Regions from separate parts of the Homo sapiens genome. Here regions 2 and 3 are each linked to region 1. Evidence: fine-mapped expression QTL. A gene starts in region 1. Each other region holds a variant in brackets. All regions are shown on one strand. Distances are from middle to middle. Region 1 holds the start of ADAMTSL2 (ADAMTS like 2). Region 2 overlaps ADAMTSL2 (ADAMTS like 2). Region 3 has its middle 7.4 kb from the start of SLC2A6.

The links.
Region 2: its variant is fine-mapped to the expression of ADAMTSL2 in tibial nerve (GTEx, PIP 0.90).
Region 3: its variant is fine-mapped to the expression of ADAMTSL2 in whole blood (TOPMed, PIP 0.95).

What each region holds. Positions count from the first base shown.
Region 1 is chr9:133,533,434-133,536,181 of GRCh38, forward strand. It overlaps ADAMTSL2 (ADAMTS like 2), which reads left to right and starts at 1,271. Exons shown (of 19, transcript NM_014694.4): 1 at 1,271-1,484. RefSeq lists enhancers at 136-677, 678-1,217, 1,218-1,759, 2,300-2,748.
Region 2 is chr9:133,560,248-133,562,995 of GRCh38, forward strand. It overlaps ADAMTSL2 (ADAMTS like 2), which reads left to right. Exons shown (of 19, transcript NM_014694.4): 12 at 951-1,048. Among named protein-coding and RNA genes, the nearest start is that of ADAMTSL2, 27 kb to the left of the region's middle. The variant T/G (reference allele first, on the strand shown) is at 1,545.
Region 3 is chr9:133,485,097-133,487,844 of GRCh38, forward strand. No RefSeq gene overlaps it. Among named protein-coding and RNA genes, the nearest start is that of SLC2A6, 7.4 kb to the left of the region's middle. RefSeq lists enhancers at 303-818, 819-1,333. The variant A/C (reference allele first, on the strand shown) is at 1,416.

The sequences.
Region 1 (2,748 bases):
TCAGGAGCGCTGGCATCCCAGCCTTGCCTACTGGAGAGGTGACTTGGTCCCCGAACCTCAGTTCTTCCACCTGTGAAATGCAGATCATAAAGGTGGATCTGGCCTCACAGCTCTGGGCCCGTAGGACAAGCTGGACAGAGGGCAGACGGTATTATCGCTTTCACTACTATTACTGGTGGCTTTCCTTCCCAGCCTTTCTGGTGGGTGGTCAGACACAGGGCAGAACTTTCTCATGAAGGCAGCTGAAGGAACTCACAAGTTTCTTCCAGCAGGGAGGACAGAGGGAAGGAGAAGTGTCTTCCCGGCACTGCTGTGGGCCCAGGACATCTGCTGCATGGAGGCAGGGGCATGGATGAAAAGACACAGATGACCTGATGGAATGGTGCCCCAGCTTCCTCCTCCTCCCCTTTTTGGAGGTGCCTCTGTTTGCCGAGGATGGGCTCTGGGGAAGCTGGTGTGCAGAGGCTAGGTGCCCAGCCTTGCTTTAGGAAAGCCTCACAAAGTCTGGGGCCCGCCGGGAGTTTCCCAGGGGGGCTCTGCTGCTCCACCCACTCTCGCTCCCCTCTGTGCCCTGACTCAGCAGGAACAGAGGCTTGAGCTCCAGGCCTGGCCTGCCAGGGGCTGCCAAGTTGGTGCTGGACATCTGCAGAATCCCTGAGCCTCTCTGCCCTGGCCCTGGCTGCTCTAGCCATCTGGTCAGCAGGCCACGGGCACATCTGTCTCCTCCCTGGAGCCCTTGGTTCATTCTCGCTGGGTCTCCCTGCGTCCCTCCACCTGCTTAGGCCCCTGCATCTCGGGAGCTTTCTGAGGCTCGTGACCTGGGGCACGGTCGTCCCGGAAGTTCAGCCTTTCCCTCCGTACAACGGAGCCATCAGACGGGACACCTCATACATCCCAGACCCCATTCTCAGGAGCCCCAGGGACAGGGCCCGCTCTGGAGGCAGAAGCCGGACAGGCGGGGCTGGGGCTTTGCCACCGCCAGCCTCCCCGGTAACCTCAGGCCAGCGGCTGCTCCGTCTGGACACCCGACATGTGGCCCCCAGTTCTGGACCCGGGAAGAAGGCCTCCCTGCTCGCCGCTCCTGGGCCGCCGCCGCCGGCAGCAGCCAACAGGCAGCTGGGCCGGCCTGGCCGGGCTCCAGAGGCGCAGAGCGGGTTAAAGTGTGCGCCAGGCCGGCCGGCGCGGGCGGGGGAGCGGCCTGGTGGGAAGTGTGAGTGTTCCTCCCCGTCTGCCTGACAGCTATAAAGGCGGCCGCCGGCGCAGAGCCGCCACTGGGCTGCGCCCCTCCCGGGAACCCCCTCTCTTGGATGCTCTTTGAAGTGGGAGAGGGAGGCGGCGCGGGGGAGGAGGGGAAGGGGAGAGGGAGGCCGGGCCGCAGCCTCTGCACTCACGCCGCCCCCGCACGCACAGCGCACCTGGCGCCGTCTGCCCTCCGCAGCGCTCGCCCCTTTCTCTGGGAGGACAACCTGCTGACCCGAAGCCAGGTAGGCCACCTCGTCCCCGTCCCCCTCACGTTGCAGCGTCCACCAGGCCAGCCCACTGCTCAGAGTGGGGCTGGGGGTAGGAGCACCCCGCGCCCTCTGGAGCCGTTACATAACGTGGGGAGGCTTGTGGGGAGGGGTCGGGCCGCAGAGCACGGGGCAGGGTGGCCTCCCAGCACCTAGCCTTGTGCGCCCGGAGCTCTGTGTGCACGGCAGACCTCTCTGCTGCCGCCAGCCGCTGCTTTTGGACCCCAGGGAGGGATGGATCCCCGTGAGCGAGGCCTGGCCAGAAGCCAGTGGTGTCTGGAAGCCTTAATGAAAAAAGCAAGTGTGAGGCCGGCTGGCACCTGTCTTCAGCCGGCAGGCAGAGGCTGGGGCACCCGTTAGCCAATGGCACAGTGGAGGGGGCTCCTGTGGGTGTGAGGCTGAGAGTGCAGATGGAGGTCTGCAGGGGAGGGAGGTGGGGGGCAGGCGGCGGGGGCAGGGGAGGTCAGACTCAGGCTCCCCACTCCAGGGTGCACTGCTGCGTCGTCCGGGCTGCAGTGGTGTCCTTGGAGTGGCCCCTGAAAATCTGCAGGTGCCGGGCCTGCAAGGAAACTCTTCAAGTTGGATGGAGGCTGCTGAGGAGGGAGGGGCAGAGCCCGAGTTGGCCTCTGGCCTGGCAGGGGTGAGGGGTGACCTCCATGCCTTCTTCCCCTGGAATTGGCCAGGCGTGGGGGTCGAGTCCCTGAGTTTGCTAGTGTGCTACCTTGCTGTGTGGCTTTGAGCAGGTTGGCTCCCCTCTCTGGGCTCCAGGTTATGAGTGCAGGCTGCGTGGTTTCTGAAATCCCTTCTCTAACTCGCTGGCAAGTGACCCTCAGCACCTGAGCAAGGCCTGGACAGAGGTCATGGTGGATCTCTGGTCTTCCCTTCCACAGGGCAGGGTCGACGCTGAGGAGGGGGTGGGGAGAGCTGAGGGCCTGGAGGCTGGACAGTCCCTTCCAATGGGCTTGCTTTGACCCCTGGCAGGTGTTTTGAGCCAAGGGTGCTGGCTGTTGGGAGGAAGTCAGCCTTGTGGCCCTGGACTGCTGACATGCTGGCACAAACTGCACCTCCTCCTGCCCTGCCCCTCCCCCAATTCCATCTTCTCTCCGGGGATCGGGAGGCGGCATAGGTACCTGGGTTCTGCCTCACCTGAGTGCCGGCTGTTGCTGGATGCTGACTGTGGAGCTGCTGGTCTAGGGCGAGGCTGCACATTCCCCCGGGACCTGGCCAAGCCCATCCCCAT
Region 2 (2,748 bases), 27 kb after region 1:
GAAAGTGGAGTTGGGCAATGCCACCTGCTGCACTGTCCAGTTTAAAAAGGAAGTCGAGGCTCGAAGGACCTGCTGTCCACCGCGCCGGCTTGCCATCGCCCCTTCTCTGGCTCAGGGGCGGCGGGACTCCATGGTGGCGTCCCAGAGCAGATGCCCGGGCTGTGGAGCTGCTGCCGCCTCTGCTTCCCTCCTCCCCTGCCGAGTCCAGAATGAGCCTGCACATTGGATGTGGAGGTTGGGCCCAGGCACACCTACTGGTTCAAAGAAGCAAACAGTCCTAACAATAGTTGGCTTTGGCTGCATAGGCTCCAGCCAAGAATCATAGCTGGTGGCTGGCTGGGACCCAGCGTGCCTCCCCCGACCCCAGCAGGTCCGTGCAGCCATGGCCTGCCTGAATTGCACTGTAGGCTCGGCCCCTGCCAGCAGCCGAGCTTTTTAATTTTGATAATTGGAGGCTGGATGCCTAGTGTCCCCCATTCCATCAGAGTCCCAGCTGGAGGAGGGGGTGGGAGAGAATTCTGGAACATTCTTAGCACATAAGACACCTTCTGAGGTCCCCTCCCCGGTGGGAAGAAGGAACCCACTAGCTGATGTGAGAAGGTAATATTGAGAAGCCTGCGTGTGTGCAGGGAGCAACTACAGTGCTGGGGGCCCCAAATTCTCAGGCCACCCCTCCCCTCCGGAAGGAGCTCGGGCAGCTCCCATGCAGTTGAGATGGAAAACAATGCCAATCAATCCTAAAATGTGCCCCTCTGCGGGCGCCTCATCCGTTCCACTTCAGACAGTGGGAACTCTGACCGTAGCAGGTGGAGGGTCGGCCCGGGGCTCAGGACAGGTGTGTGCTTCAGGCGAACATACCCTCCGAAGAAAACTCCCTCGCCTGAAAAGCCGGAGCCTGCCGGTGGGGCCTGGAGCGTCTCATCACCTTCCCTGCTTGGTCTCGCTTTCAGGACCAGGCCCAAGGCGCGCAAGCAAGGCGTGAGTCCCGCGGACATGTACCGGTGGAAGCTCTCGTCCCACGAGCCCTGCAGTGCCACCTGCACCACAGGTACTGGTCACGGGTGCCAAGGGGCAGCAACTGCCCTGAACCCATTTCCATGGACATGGGCTGGGGCTGTGGGGCCCACCCACTAGCTTGCAGCCCCCAAACTGCCCTCGGGGTGCTTGTCCGTGGCCTCCTGACTTGGGGGCAGTGTGGCGTGATAGGAGTTTGGGTGTCTGGTGAGGCCACCCTCATTCTCACAGTGTGCTAGACCATGGTCAGGTCCAGGCCCCTGGGGGTCATCCGGGCTACCACCCATTGGTGGTAGCCCTTGTCTGTTGCCAGTGATACCATGTTTTGTTAGGGCAAACATCCTTTGGGTTAAAAGTAAGAAATCTTAGGTAGCAGAGATTTTACTTTTGCTTCCAGCAAACATAGGAAGGGAGTCATAGGCCCCTGTGATCTGTGACGAAGGGAAGTAGGCAAATTCTAGGACCTCATCAGCAGGGGAGAAGTTAGGAGGGGAAAAAAGACCCTCCTCGGTGGTGCCTGGACAGACAGA[T/G]GTGTGTGGTTAGTAAGAGTTGAGCTGGGATTTGAACCCACAGCTGTCTGGTTGCACGGCCACCATCGCCCTGAGACGCTGGCCACAGCCGCTAGAGCTGGAGCTGCCTCTGCTGCCCACTCTAGTACCCTCCCCTGGGGGATGCCGCGAGGTCTGATGTCAAACCCAGGATCAGGATACAGGGCCGTTGATGGGAGAAAATATGGCAGGGAGACCCCAGTGCCGGCTGTGAGGTCACATTTTATCTATTCTTGGGGCTTCATGTTTGGATGTAGAGGATACCCAGCTGGCCCTCAAAAGGTTTGATGCTCCTGGTCCCGCCCCAGTGCCACCCATTTGCCAGGGCATTTGATGCCCTTGCAGTCTCTGGCCAGTGAGGATTCCACACAGCTGGGCAGTCTGAGCTTGGCCGCACCCTCTGCAGCCCTGCTGGCATCTCAGGAGATGGGCCCGAGAGAGGGAGGGGCTGGGGCGGCCCTGCAGGCTCTGCTCACACTGGCCTTGCCTCTCTGGGACTGAAGAAAGGGCTCTGCCTCCTGTTACAAGAGCCCCCAAACAGGGCATAGCCATGGGGCATGCTGTGTTCGCCCCTGCGCCTGGCATCCTGGAGGGAAAAAGCAAGTGCTGTGGGCGGCGTGGCGGGCACCCGGCTCGGCCAGGCTCGCACCGCCGTGGGCGGCGTGGCGGGCACCCGGCTCGGCCAGGCTCGCACCGCCGTGGGCGGCGTGGCGGGCACCCGGCTGGGCCCGGCTCGCACCGCCGTGGGCGGCGTGGCGGGCACCCTGCTGGGCCCGGCTCGCACCGCCGTGGGCGGCGTGGCGGGCACCCGGCTGGGCCCGGTTCGCACCGCCGTGGGCGGCGTGGCGGGCACCGGCTTGGCCAGGCTCGCACCGCCGTGGGCGGCGTGGTGGGCACCCGACTTGGCCAGGCTCGCACCGCCGTGGGCGGCGTGGTGGGCACCGGCTTGGCCAGGCTCGCACCGCTGTGGGCGGCGTGGTGGGCACCGGCTTGGCCAGGCTCGCACCGCTGTGGGCGGCGTGGTGGGCACCCGGCTTGGCCAGGCTCGCACCGCTGTGGGAGGCGTGGTGGGCACCCGGCTTGGCCAGGCTTGCACCGCTGTGGGCGGCGTGGTGGGCACCGGCTTGGCCAGGCTCGCACCGCTGTGGGCGGCGTGGTGGGCACCTGGCTTGGCCAGGCTCGCACC
Region 3 (2,748 bases), 48 kb before region 1:
CCTGTTGCGGGGGAGGGCTGGGGCCTGGCACTTGGAAGCTGTTTCCCAGGTCTCCACGGGGGCTGCCATAGGGGCCTCTGCCAATCTCCGGGGCTTCTCAGGAGCCACTGGTCCGCTAAGCCTCACTTTTCTCATCTGTAGGATGGATGCCACCTGTGCCCACCTCACCGCTGCCGTGCAGGGGGAGGGCAGCTGGCCGCGTTGATGCAGTTTGACAAAGGTCCCTCCAGACCAGTCTGACAGCTTCCCAGTTCCCCGGAAACGGGCCAAGCTGCATTCCAGGCCTGGCACCAGGGCCGAGGTCTCCGAGGGGACAGTAGGGCTGCCGTGTCTTGGGAAGGTGGGAGGCGGGGAGCAGATGCCGGGAATACTCATCCCACTCTGGGGGTCTTCTTCACCCCTGTTTTATGGAGGAGAAGACTGAAGCTCAGAGCTGCTGCCCAGGGTCACTTCTAGGTCACCTCATGCCCCCTGCTTTGGCCTATGCAACCCACATCAGGCCTTCCTGAGGGAGCAGACCAGAGGGACAGCAGAGGGTGGGCAGGTGGGGCCTTCCCCGAGGAGGTCCTGCCCCTTGCCTCCTCCTTCCCACAGATGGGCTGCCCAGGGCCCCCAGGGGAGAAGGTCTCTGGCACCCAGCTGTCCGGTGTCCCCAACGTCCCCAGAGATGTCCCTGGTGATGACCCTGAAGACTCGGACCTGGTGCCTTCCGTGACCCTGGCGCCTTCCGTGACCCTGGCTGCAGCCCTTGTCCTGCTGTTCCTCCTGCTCTCGGCCTGGCTGGTGTGGGACGGACCTTGCCAAAGCTGCTGCTAATGTGGGCTCCAGGAAAGTGTTGGGGGCCTGGGCCTGGCACGGAGTTAGGGGAGGCACAGCGGGGCCTCCCAGCGACACCCTGGGCTGCACTCCATTCCACCCTTTCCCAAAGCAGCCCCAACGGGACCCCAAGACTCCCCAGCGGGGCCCCTGGGTGGCACCGGACTCTGCCATTGCAGGCAGGGGGCGTGCTCCTGGGGACGGCCCCGGATGTTGGGCTGAGAGCCTCGCGCAGCCCCGGCGCTCAGGCAGATCGGGCTCAAATCCACTTCCTCTCCAGGCTGGCTGCAGGACCTTGGCCCCGTCTGAATCTTTGCAAGGCCCTTTTGGGTATCGCAGTTAAAGCCAAGTGACCCCTAGGTACTGGTGAAATGAGCGGGTGAGTTGGAAGATGGGGGTTCTAGTCCAGGCTCTGCCCGTGCTGGGCTGTGACATGGGCAGGTGCCTTTTCCCACCTGGATCCTGGTTTCCCTGGTCATCCAATGGGGCTCACAATACCCCACTTCTGGGCCCTGTTGGGAAGGCAGGTGCCGTGGGAGGCTGGGGCTGGGCCAGGCGGGTGCCCTGGTCTTTGCTGCCACCTGGTGGCTACAGATAGA[A/C]TCGCATCGTCTGCTGCATGGTGCCCTCTGGGTAGTCCAGGCCAGGGCTGAGGAGCTGAAGGCTTTTTATGTTTTGGTGCAGAACATTTTGAGATTGTGGATGTGGATAAGCACAAATCCTGTTACCCAGAGAGAACAGATTTTTAACATTTTCTATTTATCTTCTTTCCCCATCTCCATATCTATAATCTCCTTAACAAAATCATAGGGCGGAGGTAAGTTGTGAGCCGGGCTCTAGAGTCAGAGAATGCTGCCTGTGGCCCTGGCCCAGGGCCCTGATGCTCTTTTGTGCCGCAACAGCTCCCTCCCTGACCTCGACATAGGAAGCAGGGAAGCATTTTTAGGGCTGGGAGGAGTGTGGGAGACCTTCGGGCTGGAAGGTCTCCTGGAGGCTCCAAGACCCCCCACCGCCGTCTCTCACGGAACAAGTACTTGTCAAGATTTCTACTGTGGGCCGGGTGCGGTGGCTCAAGCCTGTAATCCCAGCACTTTGGGAGGCCGAGGCAGGTGGATCATCTGAGGTCAGGAGTTCGAGACCAGCCTGACCAACATGGAGAAACCCCGTCTCTACTAAAAATACAAAATTAGTTGGGCATGGTGGCGGCCACCTGAAGTCCCAGCTACTCAGGAGGCTGAAGCAGGAGAATTGCTTGAACCCAGGAGGCAGAAGTTGCGGTGAGCCGAGATTGAGCCATTGCACTCCAGCCTGAGCAAAAGAGTGAAACTCCGTCTCAAAAAAAAAAAGAAAAAAAAAATTTCTACTGTGAGCCAGCCCCTGCGGGGAAACAGGGTAAACAGGATCCCTGACGGAGCTGGGGTATGACCAGGAATGGGAAGGCTGGACTCACTGCAGCATGCTGGGGCTGGGCTGGGTAAGTAGGGCCTGCAGGAAGGGGCAGATGAGCTCTAGGGTGTAGGAGGAGTAGGCCAGGGCCGGGGTCCCCAGGGAGGCTGTTCCAGGCAGAGGAACAGACTATGGGGAGTTCAGAAGTCACTCTGTGTTCTTCTGCACCAGCTACTGCTCCCCTCAGGGAACTGGAGGCCTCTGGAGCCTCCGAGAAGCAGCCACCGAGAAGGGGCAAGTGAGCGGCAAGGCCGTGGTTCCACATTCCCAAACCACGCTTTGTCCTTCCTGGGGTCCCCGTAGGTGGGGCTCTTCTCCCTCCTCCAGCTTTCTGAAGCCAAAGTACACACCTCGGTGTCCATGATGGGGCAGCCGGGGGGCTGTACGCTTCCTCTGTCTCTGTCTCTGGGCAGACCATAGTCCAGCGTGCTGCCCCTACTGCCCTGGAAAAGCCGAGCCGGGAAGCGAGCGGTGGCTTTAGAGGCGTCG